Linked DNA regions of Homo sapiens. The protein of the gene in region 1 purifies or fractionates together with the protein of each later gene. This does not show direct contact. Each region holds a gene or a part of one and is shown in the gene's direction. Other genes may lie near its edges.

The links.
Region 2: the proteins of FHIP2B (region 1) and MYO5A purify together in Homo sapiens (affinity purification with mass spectrometry; one large-scale study listed by BioGRID and IntAct). This does not show direct contact.

What each region holds. Positions count from the first base shown.
Region 1 is NC_000008.11:22,091,961-22,095,774, forward strand, and holds part of FHIP2B (FHF complex subunit HOOK-interacting protein 2B), read left to right. Parts: intron 1-2,479; coding exon 2,480-2,558; intron 2,559-2,649; exon of another isoform or gene 2,650-2,893; intron 2,894-3,814. UniProt on the Homo sapiens protein: Able to activate MAPK/ERK and TGFB signaling pathways. May regulate the activity of genes involved in intestinal barrier function and immunoprotective inflammation. May play a role in cell proliferation.
Region 2 is NC_000015.10:52,319,310-52,323,123, reverse strand, and holds part of MYO5A (unconventional myosin-Va), read left to right. Parts: intron 1-1,614; coding exon 1,615-1,765; intron 1,766-3,781; coding exon 3,782-3,814. UniProt on the Homo sapiens protein: Processive actin-based motor that can move in large steps approximating the 36-nm pseudo-repeat of the actin filament. Can hydrolyze ATP in the presence of actin, which is essential for its function as a motor protein. Involved in melanosome transport.

The sequences.
Region 1 (3,814 bases):
CTCTCAGGGAGCTCATCATCTAGCAGAAGAGATGATTGCTCAGCACAGCAGGCACTGTCACATAGAATGTAGTGAGATGCGGTCACTGCACAGGGATGGAATATTTGGAATAACTGTGGGTGGTGCTACTTTTGAGAAGGGTTGCAGCCCCTACCAACTAGCTTTGCAAGAAGACAAGATGCCCTGCGGACTGAGGGGAGTTTCCAGTTCTGTGAATGTCATCCCTCCCTCCCCATGTTGCAGTGGCCTTCTAAGCATATTCTTCCTGCCTTTACCTCCTCTCCCAAGGCCAACTGCCAGATGAGTCTTCCGAAAACACTGCTCAGAAGGTGCCAATGGCCGGGTGTGGTGGCTCATGCCTGTAATCCCAGCACTTTGGGAGGCCCAGGTGGGCGGACCACTTGAGGTCAGGAGTTTGAGACCAGCCTGGCCAACATGGTGAAACCCCGTCTCTACTAAAAATACAAAAATCAGCCAGGCGTGGTGGCACATGTCTGTAATCCCAGCAACTTGGGAGGCAGGAGAATCACTTGAACCCAGGAAGCGGAGGTTACAGTGAGCTGAGATGGTGCCACTGCACTCTAGCCTCAGTGACGGTGAGACTCTTTTTTTTTTTTTTTGAGACTCTGTCTCAGAAGAAAAAAAAAAAGTTGTCATTGACCTGCTCCCTGCTGCCTGCAAAAAATGACTGAGACTTCTTGGCTTGGCATTAGAGACTCCGAAGTCTCGCCAGCCCACCCCTTCCCCAGGCACACTTTGCAGAGTTCCTTCTGCAGGGACTGTCTTCCTTCTCTTGTTGATATTGACCTGGTTCTTCAAGTTTTAGTTGAGATGTGATCTTGGTAAAGCCTTCCCTGTTCCAGCCTGTTAGAAGTTACCCCTGTTTTTCTGAGAGGTCACTACTTTCCACCTCTCCTGCGGCCTCACACTACTTCCTTGTAGCTTCGTTATTCAATGCGGTTTTATATCGTCTTCTCCATGACACATTTCTTGAGGACTAGGTGTTAGTCATCCTCATGTTGCTTGTGGCATCTAGCATAGTGTCTTGTACATAGTGGGCACTTAGAATGAACAAATGATTTCATGAGTGGCTACTCAGTTCTGTGGTGCAGTAAAGTGTGAGGTCAGAGAGGTGTGGGCAGGCAGGGACACTGGAGAGGGCTTGGTGGAGCTGCTGGGGACTGAACCTCACTGGGGACTTTCACGATCCAGACAGTTAGTGGGATACAGAGCACCTTGGGCAGAGGAGTGGCCCCAGCAAAGACCTAGAGGCAGAAATGCACAGCTGTGGGGAGGGATGATTAGAATTCTTTTTTTCCTGAAAACATTTACTCTGCAAGAAAAGCGAAGGAATGGTGTTGTTGTTGTTGTTGTTGTTGTTTTTGAGAAGTTTTCAGGGAAAGTGATTGTTCTCAGTGCAAGGCCAGTATCAGCCATGGTGTAGAGATGGAGAGAGCACTCATGGAAAAGGGGGAGGTTAGGGGCTTGCCCAGAGCAGAACCAGAATTTTCCAGGGCTTGATAGAAGGAGCCGGTAGAGGAGGAAACGAGAACAGCACTGGCTGAGGAGTTGGGGTTGTGCAGGCTCAGGCTTTGGACACAAGATGAAAGCATGTAAGCATGTTATAAGGAAGGCACATTGTTAATATCATGCTAATGTTACCTACCCTTCCGGCTGAACAGAGCCTGTGGTGGTCTTGAACAGATTTTCATAGACTCTCAGATTGAGAGGAATGGAAAAGCTTTGTCTTTTTTTTTTTTTTTTTTTTTTTTTTGAGATAGGGTCTCACCTTGTCACCTAGGCTGGAGTGCAGCGCTGCGATCACAATTCACTGAAGCCTTGACCTCCCTGGGCTCAGGTGATCCTCGCACCCCAGCCTCCCAAGTAGCTGGGACTATAGGCAGACACCACCACGTCCTGCTAGTTTTTAAATTGTTTATAGAGACAGAGCTTCATCATGTTGCCGAGGCTGGTTTAAACTCCTGGACTCGAGCCGTCTGCCCACCTTTGCCTCACAAACTGTTGGGCTTACAGGCGTGAGCCACTGCACCTGACCTTTGCCACATTTTCGATCTGTATCATTTTGCTTTTCTTTGGGGGACTGCGCTCCCGTGTTCCTCTATGTGCCTCTACTGTAGCGTAACCATGCTGTGTTGAAATAATCTGTGTCTGTTTCCCCCAGCAACATTCTTAGCACCTCCAGGACAGAGACAGGACAGGATTGTGACATACAGCAAGAAAACAGCATTTCCAGGAGGGAGGGGTATCTAGGGAGAAGTGCCTGTCAGGAGATCCTTGGCAAGATGACAGTGTGTCCTGGAGGAAATGTGTTATTCCTCCCTTTGAAAGCCAGGGAGCAGGGTGCCTCCTCATGAGGAGGCCTAGCATGAACCTGACACTCAGAATATCTGTTCCCATGCGGGCAGGGGCTCCCTGGCCTTTGTGGCCCCCACTGAGGTTGTGTGTCTGCCCTCCGCAGCGCGAGCCCAGCATTGACCTGCTGCAGGCCTTCGTGGAGCACTGGAAGGGCATCACGCACTACTACATCGAGAGCACAGGTGCGGCCTGGCCCTCCCCAGCCCAGGGACCCTGGAGGGAGCGGGGAGGAAGGAGTGTGCAGAGTGTCACCATTCAGGTGTCCTGGGAAAGGTAACCTGCCCAGTCGTTCAGAATTGGAGCCGAGTTCACGGAGACAGAGAACCAGACAGACAGAAGACCCAGAGCCCTGGGCCACTCCACTCCTGATGATTTAGCTGCCGGTCCCACTCTGACCTTTTGGAAAGAGGCTGTGTGAGGAAGGAGTAGCCTGGTTGGGGGTCTCACTGGCCTGACTCTGCAAGGAAGAGGTGGCTGCACTTCCCCCAGCTTCCAGCTCCAGACCTTCAGGCCCCAGGTGCTTGTGCCTAGGATTTAATGATCAAAAGAAAAGAATTTAATAAATTCCCCTTTCCCCTGAGCCAGCTTAGGGGCAATGTCCTTGTAGAGATCTGGGGTAGGAGGAGAACGAAAACCAAGGTGGGTAACATGCCTGGGTCCCTCTCTCCAAGCTGACACCCCAAAGAGCCAAAGCCTTGGCACCTGGTCCCATCAGGACCGCTCACTGAGGGGATGGCATCTGAGTGGCTGCTCTGCAGTCATGAGGCTGCCATGGGTGGATACGGACTGGTTGCCAGGTAACCATATCCTGCATCCCTCACTTTTCCCTTCCTGGAGTTCATACTGGGGCTTGATCCCAGCCCACACCTTTCCTACAGGCTTTCTTTCCAGCCCGGGCCAGCCCAGGAAATTCAGAAATCTGTGGGACCCTCTGAGGGTTCTGCTAGACCAGGTTTCTCAATCTTGGCACAGTTGGCATTGGACCTGGAGCCTTCCCTGCGCGGGGCTGTCCTGGGCGGTGTGGGATGTGCAGCAGTAATTCTGGCCTCTACCCACTAGGTGCCAGTAGCACACCCCACCCCCGAATTGGGACAACCAGGAAGGTCTCCAGACATTGCCTCATGTTCCCTGGGGGGGAAAAGCGCACCCCTGGTTCTGAACCTATCTCTTCAGGTTAAAGATCTCTTGAAGGAGAGCCTCAGTCCACCAGCTCAGTAAGATCAGATCAGAACTGGCTGAAATTCACCTGGGGCTTCCCCCATCCAGCCCTTTCATTTCCAGAATGGTCCCTAGACCAGAAGGGTTGGAAGTGCGTGGGGCAGGCCGCCCTACTCAAGCTCCTGTTCCTTAAAGGAAAGCTAGGGGGTGCTCCAAGTCTAGCCCTGAAGCACCAGAACTTTCTTTAAAACACACACTGAGACTCTGACTGCAAAAGCCC
Region 2 (3,814 bases), on another chromosome or scaffold:
TCAGTGAATAGTTACCAGAAGTAAAACTTTTTGTCAGTATGTTTTAGTGGGCATTTCAAGAGCTAATATCAGAATAGTGAACTATTTAAAGAAATTAATCAATTTTGGCTTGCCACAATACATTAAAAGGTGATCAAAAATCGGGGGGAGGGATGGCATTGGGAGATATACCTAATGTTAAATGATGAGTTAATGGATGCAGCACACCAACATGGCACATGTATGCATATGTAACTAACCTGCACATTGTGCACATGTACCCTAAAACTTAAAGTTTAAAAAAAAAAAAGAAAATTTTAATATTAATACTCTTGGACAATAAGAGGACCTTAAAATCCTTTAACTCTAAAAAAAAAAAGGGTGATCAAAAATCATGTCTTTCGATTTGTCCAAAAAAACTCTATTGTTTTTGTTTGTGGGGATATGTTCATTAGTTGTTTGATAGACTTCAAATATTTCAAAACTATGTAGAATATTAATAATGACTATTAAGGGCTGCTTTAGTATGTGTCAGACAGCACTTACTGTATATGGTGTTATTTATGATCATTAATTCTTACAGCATCTCTGTGAGGTAGGAATTATAGTCCAGTTTTACAGATGAGGAAGCCAAGGCTCACTGGGGCTCATTGATTTACCCAAGTTCTCTTGGCCACAAGGAGCAGAGCTGGGATCCTGGGTCTGGCACCGCTGAGGGCCCATGACCCTAGCCAACTGCCCTCCATGCCTCCCATCCCTTTGCCAGGAGGGCAGCAGAGAAGGTGCCCAGCGGCACTTCCTGAGCACTGACAGGCAGATGATGGGAAACACAGAGATGAGCAAGGCCTAGTCCCTGAGAAGATGGGGCCAACAGACCAGAATCCCTCAGAGGGGTCGTTGACTGCATCCTATCAGTCCCCACTTTCGGACCAGTCATTAAGTAGGTGGTAAGGAGGCAGATGCTTGGCTGTAGGGAGAATCCTCAGAGTAAGCACTTGCCTTTATCACGTAGCATCAGGCAAACAACGTGTTAAACTGCAAAGTGACTGGAAGAAGTGCCGCCCATTCAGTTCCATTTTAACAGATACCACCAAAGATTCCCTTCTAACCTCTGACTGAAAACCATGGTGTGGGTACTACGAAATAGAGTAAAGAGAACTTTTTGTATGTATTCACTAGTCTCTGTAGAAATCGGTCTATTTCAAGATTATATATGTCCTTTGGGTGTAGTTTTTAAGAATAGGACTATAAAGAACTGAAGTTAAGAGATAATTTAGATAATTTAGTGTTTGACAGTAAACCTGCTGTTTCAGAAGTGAAACACTCTATTTTTTTTTTTTTTTTTTTTTTTTAGTTAAGTTCCTCCAATTTGCTTCATTGACATTGCTATTGGGAAGACTTAAATGCTAGGTTGCCAAGTTAAGGTATTGTTCAAAAGCTAGTAAGAACTGGAGGGGGTTATGATGGAAGCAAACAAACACACATCAGCATTTGAGAATGTCAGTCCTGGCATTAGTGGGGAAGCTCCTTGGACAGAGCAGAAAAGAGCATGAAGATGCTGATCAAATTGGAGATAGTTAAACTGAAGAGACAGGTTACTTCATGTGTATCATTAACTTTGCCTTATGACTCTAGGGCTTTATGAAGCACAACACATCTCGCCAGAATGAACACTGCCTCACCAATTTTGACCTGGCTGAGTATCGGCAGGTGCTGAGTGACTTGGCCATTCAGATCTACCAGCAGCTCGTGCGGGTGTTAGAGAACATCCTTCAGCCAATGATTGGTAAGGCCAGGGCCCCACTGGGCATTGCAGCCTGCCTATCATTCATGCCCATCGATAAGTAGCCACCAGTGGCACATGTTTCAGGGCAGGTATTCATTTGGGGAGCATAAAGTAGTAAGATACAGGGCTAAAATTAGCCGAGGAATCCCAGAAACCCAGCCATAGTTAACTGGGATACATCGAAATCACTGTTTCCACAAGACTGAAACAGTAGTATATGGTTTCCTTCCCTAATGTTTACTGTTTAAATTCAGTTGAATGCATTGAATTTTAAAAAATTGTCTTAAGTTACCAAACATTGTTATCTTCCAGCAAATTATCAGCAGGCTCCCTTTTTTTTTTTTTTGAGACAGAGTCTCGCTCTGTCGCCCAGGCTGGAGTGCAGTGGCGCGATCTCAGCTCACTGCAAGCTCTGCCTCCCGGGTTCACGCCATTCTCCTGCCTCAGCCTCCCGTGTAGCTGGGACTACAGGTGCCTGCCACCACGCCCAGTTAATTTTTTGCATTTTTAGTAGAGACGGGGTTTCACCGTGTTAGCCAGGATGGTCTCAATCTCCTGACCTTGTGAGCCACTCACCTCGGCCTCCCAAAGTGCTGGGATTACAGGTGTGAGCCCCTGCACCCAGCCTATCAGCAGGCTCTTAAGGCTACTTCCAGCTACACTTTCTTTCCCCATGCATGCATTTTCCATGTTTCCACAACTTCTTCATTTCCCTTCTGTGGGCTCATAGTGTTCCCTTTGCTTTCATAGGCCACAGTTAACTAGCTATTTGAGACATCAAAAGCTGAAGAAGCCATGGGAGATGGCAATGTTTTCTTCAGATGTCCCTTAAAACGTCATTAAAGCACCCTAGGTTGGCAAAAATTTAGGAGGTAACACAGATACCAAGGTCAACTTCAGCCAGTTTTTCTATTGCTTTGCCTGTTTCTATTGGCTGAATAAGAAGTTCGCCTCAAAGAAGCCCCAATCTAAATCCTTACCCCCATCTCCCAGTCATTTAACAGCAACAACAAACATGCCGGTTCTAGGGAATCTGTGTTTAGCACAATTAAATAGCAAGATGAACCAGACGTGGCCTTTGCTCTCAAGGGGCTTGCTGTCAGGGAGTGGACATCTCAGAAACATTCTAAGGGAGGCATAAGCCAAATGCTAAGAGAGCACAACAGGGAAGCAGCCGGGCCACAGGTGAGAAGACGAATTCTGGGAGATGGAGGTCAGCCCAAGGGCCCACTGCTGTTGTGGGAAACCCAGAATAAGGAAGGGCCCAGCTCTCCAGACCCATACCACTCCCCTCTCCCACGTTTTCTCCAAGATGGTTGTCAGTGCCCTGCTTTTCTTACTGTTTTTGCCTCTGGGGCTCAGATAACATGGAGAATGCTTATCTTAACCCGAACTGCTACCTACCACTCTCAAAAGCCCACCCAAGACACACACACTTGTTCTATCACAAGGCTACTGCTTCTTAACGCTTCTTATTTTAGAAAAGACACCATTAAGTTTACTTAGATTCATAGTAAATTTTTGCAATTAAGAATTATTCCTTCAGTAAAGTTTAAAATCCGGAAGCCCTTTTGTAGTGAAGTTCCTTTTCCCTCTATTTTGGCACCCAGATCATTTTTTTCTTTTTTGAAATGGAGTCTCTCTCTGTCACCCAGCCTGGAGCCCAGATATGTGGTCTCAGCTCACTGCAGCCTTTGCCTCCCAAGTTCAAGTGATTGTCCTGCCTCAGCCTTCTGAGTAGCTGGGATTACAGGCACACGCTACCACGCCTGGCTAATTTTTGTATTTTCAATAGAGACGGGGTTTCCTTATGTTGGCCAGGCTGGTCTTGAACTCCTGGCCTCCAGTGATCCACCCACCTCGGCGGCCTCCCAAAGTGCTGGGATTACAGATGTGAGCCACCGTGCCCAGCTAATTTTCCTAAGTTGAATGTGCATGTGTTTGTGCACATGGATATGTGCACATGAAAGGTTCCCTTCCACATCATCTCCTCTAACAATTGAAATACTCCTGCAGTCTCAGGCATGCTGGAACATGAAACGATTCAGG